Linked DNA regions of Homo sapiens: region 1 is linked to region 2. Evidence: fine-mapped expression QTL. A gene starts in region 2. The other region holds a variant in brackets. All regions are shown on one strand. Distances are between the middles of the regions. Region 1 has its middle 14 kb from the start of LINC00670. Region 2 holds the start of ZNF18 (zinc finger protein 18).

Region 1 (5,379 bases), 540 kb after region 2:
TTTATCCTGACTGAATTTACTTCTGCTTCTGCTGGTAGCCAGATTTAATTAACCTTGCTCATCTTTAGTTCTTCAGAGGGTCTTTATTCGTGAGTGAAAATACCTCGCTGTGAGAACTTAGCACACCAATAGCATTGCTGCTGTGGGCAACCTAATTCAAGCAATTACATTCTCCAAGATATTCACTGCTCTAGTCTGGGCTACCTACTAAATGGGAAACAATTTACTTATTTTCATGGCTTCCTCACCTCTTTTGACACAACTAGTACCTCAGAAATTGTTTCTATTCATCACATTGTTTTTATGAATTGTGTTGGGGGAATTTCTGAAAGCATTCATCAAATTAACCATATGTCTGAAGTTGAAATTTGTATTCCTTCTACAGTTATTGCTTTTCTTATATTTGACCTTTTTTTCTTCTTCTAGAATTTTCCTTATTTGCATATTAGGTATATTGTATCTATCCTCTAAGCTTCTTCTTCTTCTTCTTCTTCTTTTTTTTTTTTTTTTTTTGATGGAGTCTCACTCTGTCATCCAGGCTGGAGTGCAGTGGCGAGATCTCGGCTCACTGCAACCTCTGCCTCCCAGGTTCAAGCAATTCTCTGCCTCAGCTTCCCTAATAGCTGGGATTACAGGCGCCCACCACCATGCCTGGCTAATTTTTGTACTTTTAGTAGAGACGGGATTTCACCATATTGGTCAGGCTGGTCTCGAACTCCTGCCCTCAGGTAATCTGCCTGCCTCAGCCTCCCAAAGTGCTGGGATTACAGGCATGAGCCACCGTACCTGGCCTCCTCTAAGCTTCTTCTATTCTCATTTATGGTTTTAATTTGTTTATGTTCCTTGTAAAATATTTTTTTCATTTGATCTTGCAGACCATCAAAGCGTTTTCTCAGCAGTAGCTAGTCTGTCAATAGTTTGATTGCATTTACAATTTATACATATTGTTTTCAGATCCAGATGCTACGCTTTGTGCTCTCTTCATCTTTTTGAGAATTCTTACTATAATGCTATCTTACTGCAGAACCTTAGACCATCATGCCCTTAGTAATGGATGTGATGATTAGTTTTCTTTTGCAAAACTAAAAAATTTTAAACATATTGGATATTTTTCAGAAATATCAGAAATATTTTAAAATCACGGATATGGTGATTACTTTTCTTTTTGACTGAAAATGACCATCACTGAGTTGTCACAGAGGCTTTCCTTTCATTTTTTAAATTTTTTTTGAGACGGAGTCTCACTCTTGTTGCCCAGGCTAGAGTGCAATGGCGCGATCTCGGCTCACTGCAACCTCCGCCTCCTGGGTTCAAGCTATTCTCCTGCCTCAGGCTCCTGAGTAGCTGGGATTACAGGCTCCCACCACCACGCCGGGCTGATTTTTGTGCTTTTAATAGAGATGGGGTTTCATGTTGGCCAGGCAGGTCTTGAACTCCTGACCTCAGGAGATCCACCTGCCTAGGCCTCCCAAAGTGCTGGGATTACAGGCTGAGCCACTGCGCCCGGCCAGAGGCTTTCCTTTCTATAGTCCTTGCAAAAGAAAGCTGCAGCAAGTTGAACAAGCTTTGAACAGTGTACTTCAACCCCAGGATTTAGCTAAAAGAACCAGCATGTATATGGACCCATGAGAAAAGAATACAAAGGCTCATATCACCTTGTGATCTGAATTAGTGCCCTGTTTTTTTGTTTTGTTTTTAAAGTGAGTTAGACAATGGACTCTCTGTCTCAGGAAGTTGAACAAAATTTATAGAAGGATTGCAGCTGCCAAAAGAGGCTGAAGTCAGGAGGATATGGGCTAGAGCTAAGACCATAGGGAGAGTGATAAACCAAAGCCAGGAGTGAGATAGATGAACTTAAGAGAGAGCAATAATGTTGAGTACACAGAGAAGCCACCGCTCATCCATTCCAGGTAAGCCCCAGTAATCACTCCCTTTTAGCCATTCCTGTGGCATCCTTATTCCTTGGTTTTGAACACACCTCAATAAAACATTTTCTCCTGCTACTGAGCAGCTGGAACAAAATCATTGCCATAAAACTCAACAGGGTGCCGATCTCTGATACCCAAGGTTTCTAATGAATAGGGTACTGGACAGTGGCAATCTTTGTATATAAAATCTGGGGAAAAAAGAAAATTTTTCTGATTGTTTACGATAACTATATAA[C/T]CTTTCCTCCAACTTATCCCAAGTCTTTGATTCTCTGGAAAAAAGTATAGGTGCTGCTTATGATGAACAGGCTTTAGTGTACCCATATCATCCCTGTCTCTTGGAGTCCATGCCCTTATGTAATTCTCTCTCCTTGAGGGTAGGCAAGACCTGTGACTTGCTTCTAACCAATGTGGCAAAGATAATGCATGATTAGGTGGTATTACATGCAACGATAGGTGGTATATCTCATGATTAGGCAGTATTATATGCAAAGGTGGTGGGATGTGATGGCCATTATTACATTACTTTATATAATACTCCATCCTAGTAGATTGAAACTAAAGTCCCTCCTTAGAGGCTTAATGAAGTAAGTGGCCAAGTTGGAGAAGCCTAATTGGCAAGAAACTGCGGGTGCGCTCCAGGATCTGCTGTCAGCGCCTAAGATCTCAGAGCAACCTTCAGTCAACAGCTAGCAAAAAGCCATGGCCCTCAGTCATGCAGCCACAGGAGATTAATTCTGCCAACATCCTGAATAAGCTTGGAAGCAGATTCTTCCCCAGCTGAGCCATTAAATGAAAATATAACCTGACCAACACTTTGGTTACAGCCTACTGACTCTGAAGAAATCACTCAGCTAGGCTATACTCAGTTTCCTAACTGTGAAATAAATGTGTACTGTTTGAAGCCACTATGTTTATGGTCATTTGATACGCAGCAATAGAAAACTTAGGCACTATCAAAGCAAGGGATGTAAGAAAGCACAAAACCAACCAGACGTGGTGGCTCACGCCTGTAATCACAGCACTTTGGGAGGCCGAGGCGGGAGGATCATGAGGTCAAGAGATGGAGACCATCTTGGTCAACATGGTGAAACCCCATCTCTACTGAAAACACACACATAAAATTAGCTGGGCGTGGTGGCGTGCTCCTGTAGTTCCAGCTACTCGGGAGGCTGAGGCAGTAGAATTGCTTGAAACTGGGAGGCGGAGGTTGCAGTGAGCCGAGATTGCGCCACTGCACTCCAGCCTGGTGACAGAGTGAGACTCCATCTCAAAAAAAAAAAAAAAAAAAAAAAAGAAAAGAAAAGAAAAAAAAGAAAGTACAAAACCAGAAGGCTAACTCTGCCCCTGCCTTACCCTTTTCAGTGTGGCCTGACACAGGCAGAACCATGCCACGTGCTGTTTCTCCACCTGGGTTACTACATTGCTTTATGATCTATCCTTCCTTAGGCATTTGCAAGACTCCAGTGTACCAAGAGAAAATTTTATCAGGCTATGATTAAGTGTGTTTATTCACCAAGGTAAACTGGCTGTGGAAATTGTTGAATTACACTTGAGCAGAACTTTAACTAGTTTTAATATGTGTTTACCCACATTACCTCACTTGATACTCATTATAATCCTGCACGATGTGTAAGTATTCTGTTGAAGCTGAGAGATTAAGTTGTTTGCTCAAGTTTCCCAGCGAGTAGTGGCAGAGCCAGAAGTGAATCTAAGTCTTCTAAAACCAAGGCCAGTTTTCTCCTTTATGTGAAAATCACCTCTTAGAGAGAAGGCCTTACCTGAACCTCCAGAATAATGTTTAATTATGACAATATGGTCTCAGTTCTTTCAAAAGTAGAATAAAATTAGAAAATGGAGATCAGCACTTCCTGTAAAATTGTGGAGGTCATCTGGTATAGAGTAGTTAATGAAAGAATGTAAATGTATCATATGTGATGGAATTTCTCTGTCGTCATCAAAGAACATTAACAGTGGACACATGTACTCTCATGCATGTGCCCTTGTGTCAAGTGTTGAATCTATACTGACTAATGTACTCAAAGGAAAACTTCAAGTACAGACATTATTTGTACTCAGAGGTTAGAAGTCAAAAAATCAAAAGTCTACTGTAGGCTTTGGATAGAATAATGAAGTCTTGCTTATCTTTGGAGGAGGATAATTATCCCCTTTGACATTCTGAAAAAAAAAGTTTGTGTAACTTAAAAGTCTTGGAAGTTTGGTATAAGAATGAGCATGTCCAAACTGTTCTGTTACTTGAAAAGTGATTGTCAGGCCGGGTGCGATGGCTCATGCCTGTAATCCCAGCACTTTGAGAGGCCGAGGCAGGCGGATCACGAGGTTAGGGATTTGAGACCAGCCTGGCCAACATGGTGACACCCCGTCTCTACTAAAGACACAAAAAATTAGCCAGGCATGGTGGCAAGCACCTGTAATCTCAGCTACTTGGGACCCTGAGGCAGGAGAATCGCTTGAACCTGGAAGGCGGAGGTTTCAGTGAGCCAAGATCACGCCATTGCACTCCAGCCTGGGCAACACTGGGCAACAGGGCGAGACTCCGTCTCAAAAAAAAAAGAAAAGTGATTGTCAGGTAAAAACAAAGGCAAAAAAGATGAGTAAGGAACTTACTCTTACTTCCAACTAGTCAAAGAAGTCTTCCAGAATCAATAAGACTTCTTACTTTACAGTAAATTCTAGTTTATGTGGTAATATTGACGTGATTCCTGATCCAAATCAGTTTTCCAAATGAGGTTTTAATAATTGTATTTGATGACTACAAATGTACTCTATGCTCGGTGGGAAATGCAATGGTCTCGACCCATTTTCTAGGTGCAAGTATGTGGTGATAACTCATAGACAAAGATGGTAGCCAGAGATATGATGAGTCAGATTCTGCCAACATCCTGAATAAGCTTGGAAGCATATTTCTTCCCTAGCTCAGGGAAGGATAGCCTGACCAACACCTTGGTTACAGCCTAGTGACTCTGAACAAAGCTTTCGACTTTGAAAACAGAGAGAGCATTTGATCATGTATGGAATTTGAGAGAAATAGGAAGAGTCAGGGTTAACTAGGTAATTTTTTAGCTTAAGCAACTGGAAGAATGGAGTGTATAGGAATTCAGTCTGGGAAATATCAAATTTAAGATATTTTATCAGACATTCATGTGAAGAAGTTGAATAGATAGTTGGGCAAACAAATGTGGAGTTCAAGAAAGAGATCTGGCTGCAGCTCTAATTTAGTTAACCAAATAATTTCTCCAAGGGATTGAATGAGGCAGAGAAGAAAAGAGACCAAACATTAAGCCCCAGGAAACACTGGAATTAAAAGGTGAGGCAGAAGAAGTAGAACAGCGGAGATGACTGAGATGACTGACTCAATATATTATCAGTGAGGTGAAAGGCAAGCTAAGAAAGTGTTTGGTGCCTTGGAAACCAGGTGAAAATGTATCAAAGA
Region 2 (5,383 bases):
CGGGCGTGGTGGTGAATGCCTGTAATCCCAGCTACCAGGGAGGCTGAGTGAGGCAGGAGAATTGCTTGAACCCAAGGGGGCAGAGGTTGCAGTGAGCCGAGATCACACCACTGCAAGAAAAAAAAAAAGAAACCCAGGCCAGGCGCGGTGGGTCACGCCTGCAATCCCAGCACTTTGGAAGCCCTAGGCGGGAGGACCACCTGTGGTCAAGAGTTTGAGACCAGCCTGGCCAACGCAGTAAAACCCCATCTCTACTAAAAATACAAAAATTAGCTGGGCATGGTGGTGCGCACCTGTAATCCCAGCAACTCAGGAGGCTGAGGTAGGAGAACAGCCTGAACCTGGGAGGCGGAAGTTGCAGTGAGTCAAGATCGTACCACTGCACTCCAGCCTGGGCGACAGAGGGAGACTCCATCTCAAAAAAAAAAAAAAAAAGAGTCAGTGAAGTCAAAAAATCTGAACACTATCAACCGACTTGCTCTAATTGACATTTTCAGAACACTAGACCCAAGAACTGCAGAGTATACATTCATTACAAGTGCAAAGAGTATTCATCAAAACAGACCATATGCATAATTTTCAAATGACTGATATCTTAAAATTAGCTCTAAAAATATTACGCAAAGTGGTATTGCTAAAAAGCCATTAAAGCAATACCAAAAAACACTCAAAAACCCAATATCTGATAGAAAAGGAACACAAGAGAAACAAAACCAGAAAGGTCAAATGGAAAACTTTAGAGCTTCCTGGGTTCAAATATATTCTCTGATCATAGTGCAATTAAAGTAGAAATCAATAACAATAACTAGAAAATCCCAATTTATGGAAATTACTAAATAATGCTCTTAACCCATAGTCAAAGAAAAAAATCACAAAGGAAATTAAAATATGTTTTCATACTGAGTGACAATGACAGCATTATCAAACCACCTGAAAAGCAGCTTTAGCTCAGAGGTAAACCTACAGTTTCAAATAACATCTTAAAAAACGAATAAATATATTTTTAAAAATACCTTGCTTTGTAAATCCAACCTATTTGGCTCAAGAGTTTCAAATAACAAGCGGCAAGATTTTAGATAGCAAGATACCGACCTGTAAACTTACTGCAATTTATCTGTTTCCTAAATTAAGATAGCAGTTTAGATAATATTTAAGAGAAATGACATTTTGGAAAAACTACAGATTTTATAAAATACTTAAATCTTTTGTTAGTAATATTATACTCCCAGGTAGTGTGTAAGAAAAATGTCTCGATTATTCAAAATTAAATTACTTTATATAGTATTAAAAATTTAATAGAGTTTATATTCCGATAACCTCATGAGGAACTGCCCCCATTAGTTATGAAAAAAAAATAAGGTTGTCTGTTATACCTGTTATTAAACCTTTAACAAATAGAATGAATTTTTAAAAGTGCATTCTAGGTGTAATATACACAAGTGGTTACATACATGGTTACATATATAAGTAACCATTTGTTAAGCACCTACTACGTATCGGCTCATTATTAAGCTCGGTTCATGTATTTCCAATTCCCACAATTACCCTGGTGTACAGATCAGGAACCTCCGAGGCTCACAAGTGGCAGCCAGATTAACCCAGGAAGCTCTAAAGCCTTTGCTTTGGGGAGAACTGCCAACGTCTGGTGATTTGTTGGGGCGTTTTCTGGTTGTCACAAGCAGCTAGGGGAACTGGCATTTAGTGCTCGAGGCCAGGGCAGCGCTGCTCATTGGATATGTATTCTCCACCATGCGCCCCCCAAATGCCGACTGCACTCTGATGAGAGAGGGAGAGACTCCAGGCATCATCCCATCGGGTTTCCTCTTCCAGAGACTCATTTTCAGCCCTTAGGGGAAGACAGCGGGGAGGAGCCCGTTTTCGGTCCCAGTGCAGAGACCCGGCCGGTCCCGCGGGGCGCAGAGGCGCAGGAATGCAGAGCCGGGACGGGGTTCACACATCCCCCCGCACCCACGGTCCACTCCCAGCCATGGCTGCCCCGGCCCCGCACTCGCCACGTCCCCCGCGCGCTCCCAGACGCATGGGCAAGGGAGCCCGCTGGCCCCTCCGTAGCTCCGGGGTGCCCAGCTGAGTCAGGTGCGGACGCAGATAGCGCAAGGCCTGACCCCGAGCGGCCGGAGGCCGGGACCGCCCCGCAAGCGCGCTCACCTCGGCCCGCGGCGCCGGCTCCGGGCGCACTTCCGGGAGCTGGGTGGCTGCGCGCGCCTCAGGCGGCAGGCGAACGACGTGCGGCACCGGGCGGAGCTAGGGGGCGGGGGCGGAGCTGATACCGAAGCTCCTATTGGCCGTCGGGGACGCCCCGCCTCTCTCTGGCGTTGCAGCCCAGGAGCCTCCACCGACATGGCAGCGAGGTTCCCGAGCCAACGCCATCCTCCGTTCCTTCCGTCACTCACTCACTAATCACTGTTCCTGAGTTCCTTCACTTCTCACCCGTCATTTATTGCGCACCTATTCTGTGCCAGGCACTCGGCCAAGCACTGCGAGGCCTTCAAAGATCATTTCTTTGTCTCTCCCAAACCCTTCCGCCCAGTCCCACCCGCAGAGCTGCAACGCTCTGCCATTATCCCTGATTCTTAACCGCCGCCTTTCTCCTTTCCGTTCTTGCCTCACTGGGCCTCCCTGAGACACTTGATTTGCCCCAACCTTCTTCCTCTGTCTTGGTTCTCCCACTCTCATCAGCTCTGCATCCCCTGGGTCCTCTCCCACTTCTCCCCATTCCGTTGGGGCTAGTCCAATGTGGTGCCATCCTCTTTCCACCTGCGTCTCTCTCTCTTCTCTCTCTCTCTCTCAACAAATGTCATCCCTGACTCTTCCCTTCTCCTTCCCTTTCCCACACGCCAACAATGGCTGAATCCTCTGATTTGACCTCATTGTCTCTCAGACACCTCACCCTCTCTCCCTTCTCACTATCCCTCCCTCGGCTCAGTTCCACACCATTTGTAATGGTCAAGACCTTCTTACCCTTTCCCCAGCGTCCAGTGTTGCCGGTTTCCAGGCCATCCTGTGCTGGGCCACGACATCAACTTGTGATACTAAGTTGCATTAATGGAAGTATCATGTCAAAGTTTGGGTGTTCCACCTTGGGCAACTGGCAAAGAGGAGGGTATTCAAAAAAAGCTGCCATGTTCCCCAATAACCTATGGAAATAAAATAAATAAAAAATAAAAATTTAAAGAAGAGCTGTCATTATCATAACATGTCCTGTACCTGTCATTATCATAACATGTCCTGTACCTGTCATTATCATAACATGTCCTGTACCTGTCATTATCATAACATGTCCTGTACCTGTCATTATCATAACATGTCCTGTACCTGTCATTATCATAACATGTCCTGTACCTGTCCCATGTTTACAAGAATTAAAGATCCTCCTCTGGAGAAATAAAGCTTGATGCGGGGATGGGATTACATCTTCATGTACCTGAAAAGTGACCAGCGGAAAAGGGATTCGACATGTTCTCTTAAGTCCCAGGGTCTGAACAAGATCCTATGTGTGAAACTACTGTTTCAGCCTGACATAGGTGGAAGTTTCTAGTCTTTTTTTTTTTTTTTTTTTTTTTTTGTATTTTTGGTGGAGACGGGGTTTCACCATGTTGGCCAGGCTGGTCTCGAACTCGTGACCTCAAGTGATCCACCCACCTTGGCCTCCCAAAGTGCTGGGATTACAGGCATGAGCCATGGCACCTAGCTGGACGTTTCTAACATTCATGTGATTGATGGCGCTGCTTTGAGTTCCTGAGGACAGCATGGCTAACAATTTACCAGGCACATTTAGAGGGACACCTTCATTGGGTATTGCTTCCAACATCAATGTGCTCTGCTTCTAAGAAAGTCAAGAGATAAGGTGGTTTAGAGGGGAAGATTATAGGAGTTTTATCTTCAATGTGTTCGCTTTTAGCTGATCAACACCCAAGGAAGATAACAGTAATTCAAAACCATTAATTGGGTTCTGACTCCTTTGTGAATCTGATGGAAGGTAAAATTTTTCCCAAGAAAAATGCACATACACATCTACATACAACACTTTGCACTCAAATCCAGGGAGCTAACACAGCCTTGAAACCCATCCTTGGAACCCACAAACCTCAGTTTGAGAACTCTAATCCTGGTAGATGGTTCCTGATATGAAAATGACACTTTGAAGTTTAATAATTTCTTTATAAACTGGCACCTTAGGAAAAGGCATAAACACTTATTTCGAAACAGGCTGAACAATCAAAATATTTTTTAAAATAGGGAGATATCTACCTCAGCTTAGGAAATAATGAAAAGGTGTCATCTATTTCTATTATTCACTTACTCATTCAATAAATATTTACCAGATGATGTGCCCAGCACTCTTCCAATAGCTATATATGCAAGAATGAACTAAACACACAAAGTCCCAGCCCTCCCAAGACTTATATTTTGTAGGGTGAGCTGGACAATAAATAAGTGCACAAGTGGTAATTATAGGTGTTGTGAAGAAAATTACATTGGGGTAAGGAGGAGAGGTACTGTTAGAGATGGAGTGCAAGTTATATAGGATGGTCAGGGAAGGACTAACAGATAAAACAGGCTTGAATCCAGACCGGAAGTTAATTAAGACGCAAGCCTTGCGTGTATCTGTGGGAACCTCCAGGCAGAGGAAATTGCAAAAGTTTTTGTTGTTGTTGTTGTTTGAGACAGAATCTTGCTCTGTTGCCCAATGTAGTGCCAGAATCTCAGCTCACTGCAACCTCCGACTCCAGGTTTAAGTGATTCTCCTGCCTCAGCCTCCTGAGTAGCTGGGATTACACATGCTTGCCACCGTGCCCAGCTACTTTTTGTATTTTTAGCAGAGATGAAGTTTCATCATGTTGGCCAGGCTGGTCTCAAATTCCTGACCTCAGGTGATCCACCCACCTCAGTCTCCCAAAGTGCTGGAATTACAGGTGCGAGCCACCAGGCCCACCCATAAACGTTTAGGCCATGAAACAATGAGTGACAATAAAGAGAAGCACTATAAAGACCAAGCCCTGGACCACGCCAACATATAGGGTCAGGGTAATAAGAAAAATCTATTAAAGGAGAAAGAAACTGAGGAGCCACTGAGGTAGCAGGAAAACAGAGAGTGGTATCCGGGAAGCCAACTGCATAAAGTGTTCAAAGAAAGAAGGAATTGCTGGGTGTGGTGGTTCACGCCTGTAATCCTAGCACTTTGGGAGGCCGACATGGGCAGATCACCTGAGGTCTGCACTTCGAGACCAGCCTAACCAACATGGAGAAAACCTGTCTCTACTAAAAATACAAAATTAGCTGGGCGTGGAGGTGCACGCCTGTAATATACAAACTGGCACCTTAAGAAAAGGTATAAACCCATAATCGCTTGAGCCCAGGAGGC

The links. PIP is the estimated chance that this variant, and not a neighbour inherited with it, causes the effect.
Region 1: its variant is the best candidate, but not a certain one, in a credible set for the expression of ZNF18 in tibial artery (GTEx, PIP 0.61).

The regions. Positions count from the first base shown.
Region 1 is chr17:12,532,786-12,538,164 of GRCh38, forward strand. No RefSeq gene overlaps it. Among named protein-coding and RNA genes, the nearest start is that of LINC00670, 14 kb to the right of the region's middle. The variant C/T (reference allele first, on the strand shown) is at 2,164.
Region 2 is chr17:11,995,265-12,000,647 of GRCh38, forward strand. ZNF18 (zinc finger protein 18) reads right to left here and starts at 2,211. Exons shown (of 7, transcript NM_001303281.2): 1 at 2,167-2,211. RefSeq lists a silencer at 1,910-2,359 and enhancers at 2,292-3,275, 2,390-2,629, 2,700-2,779.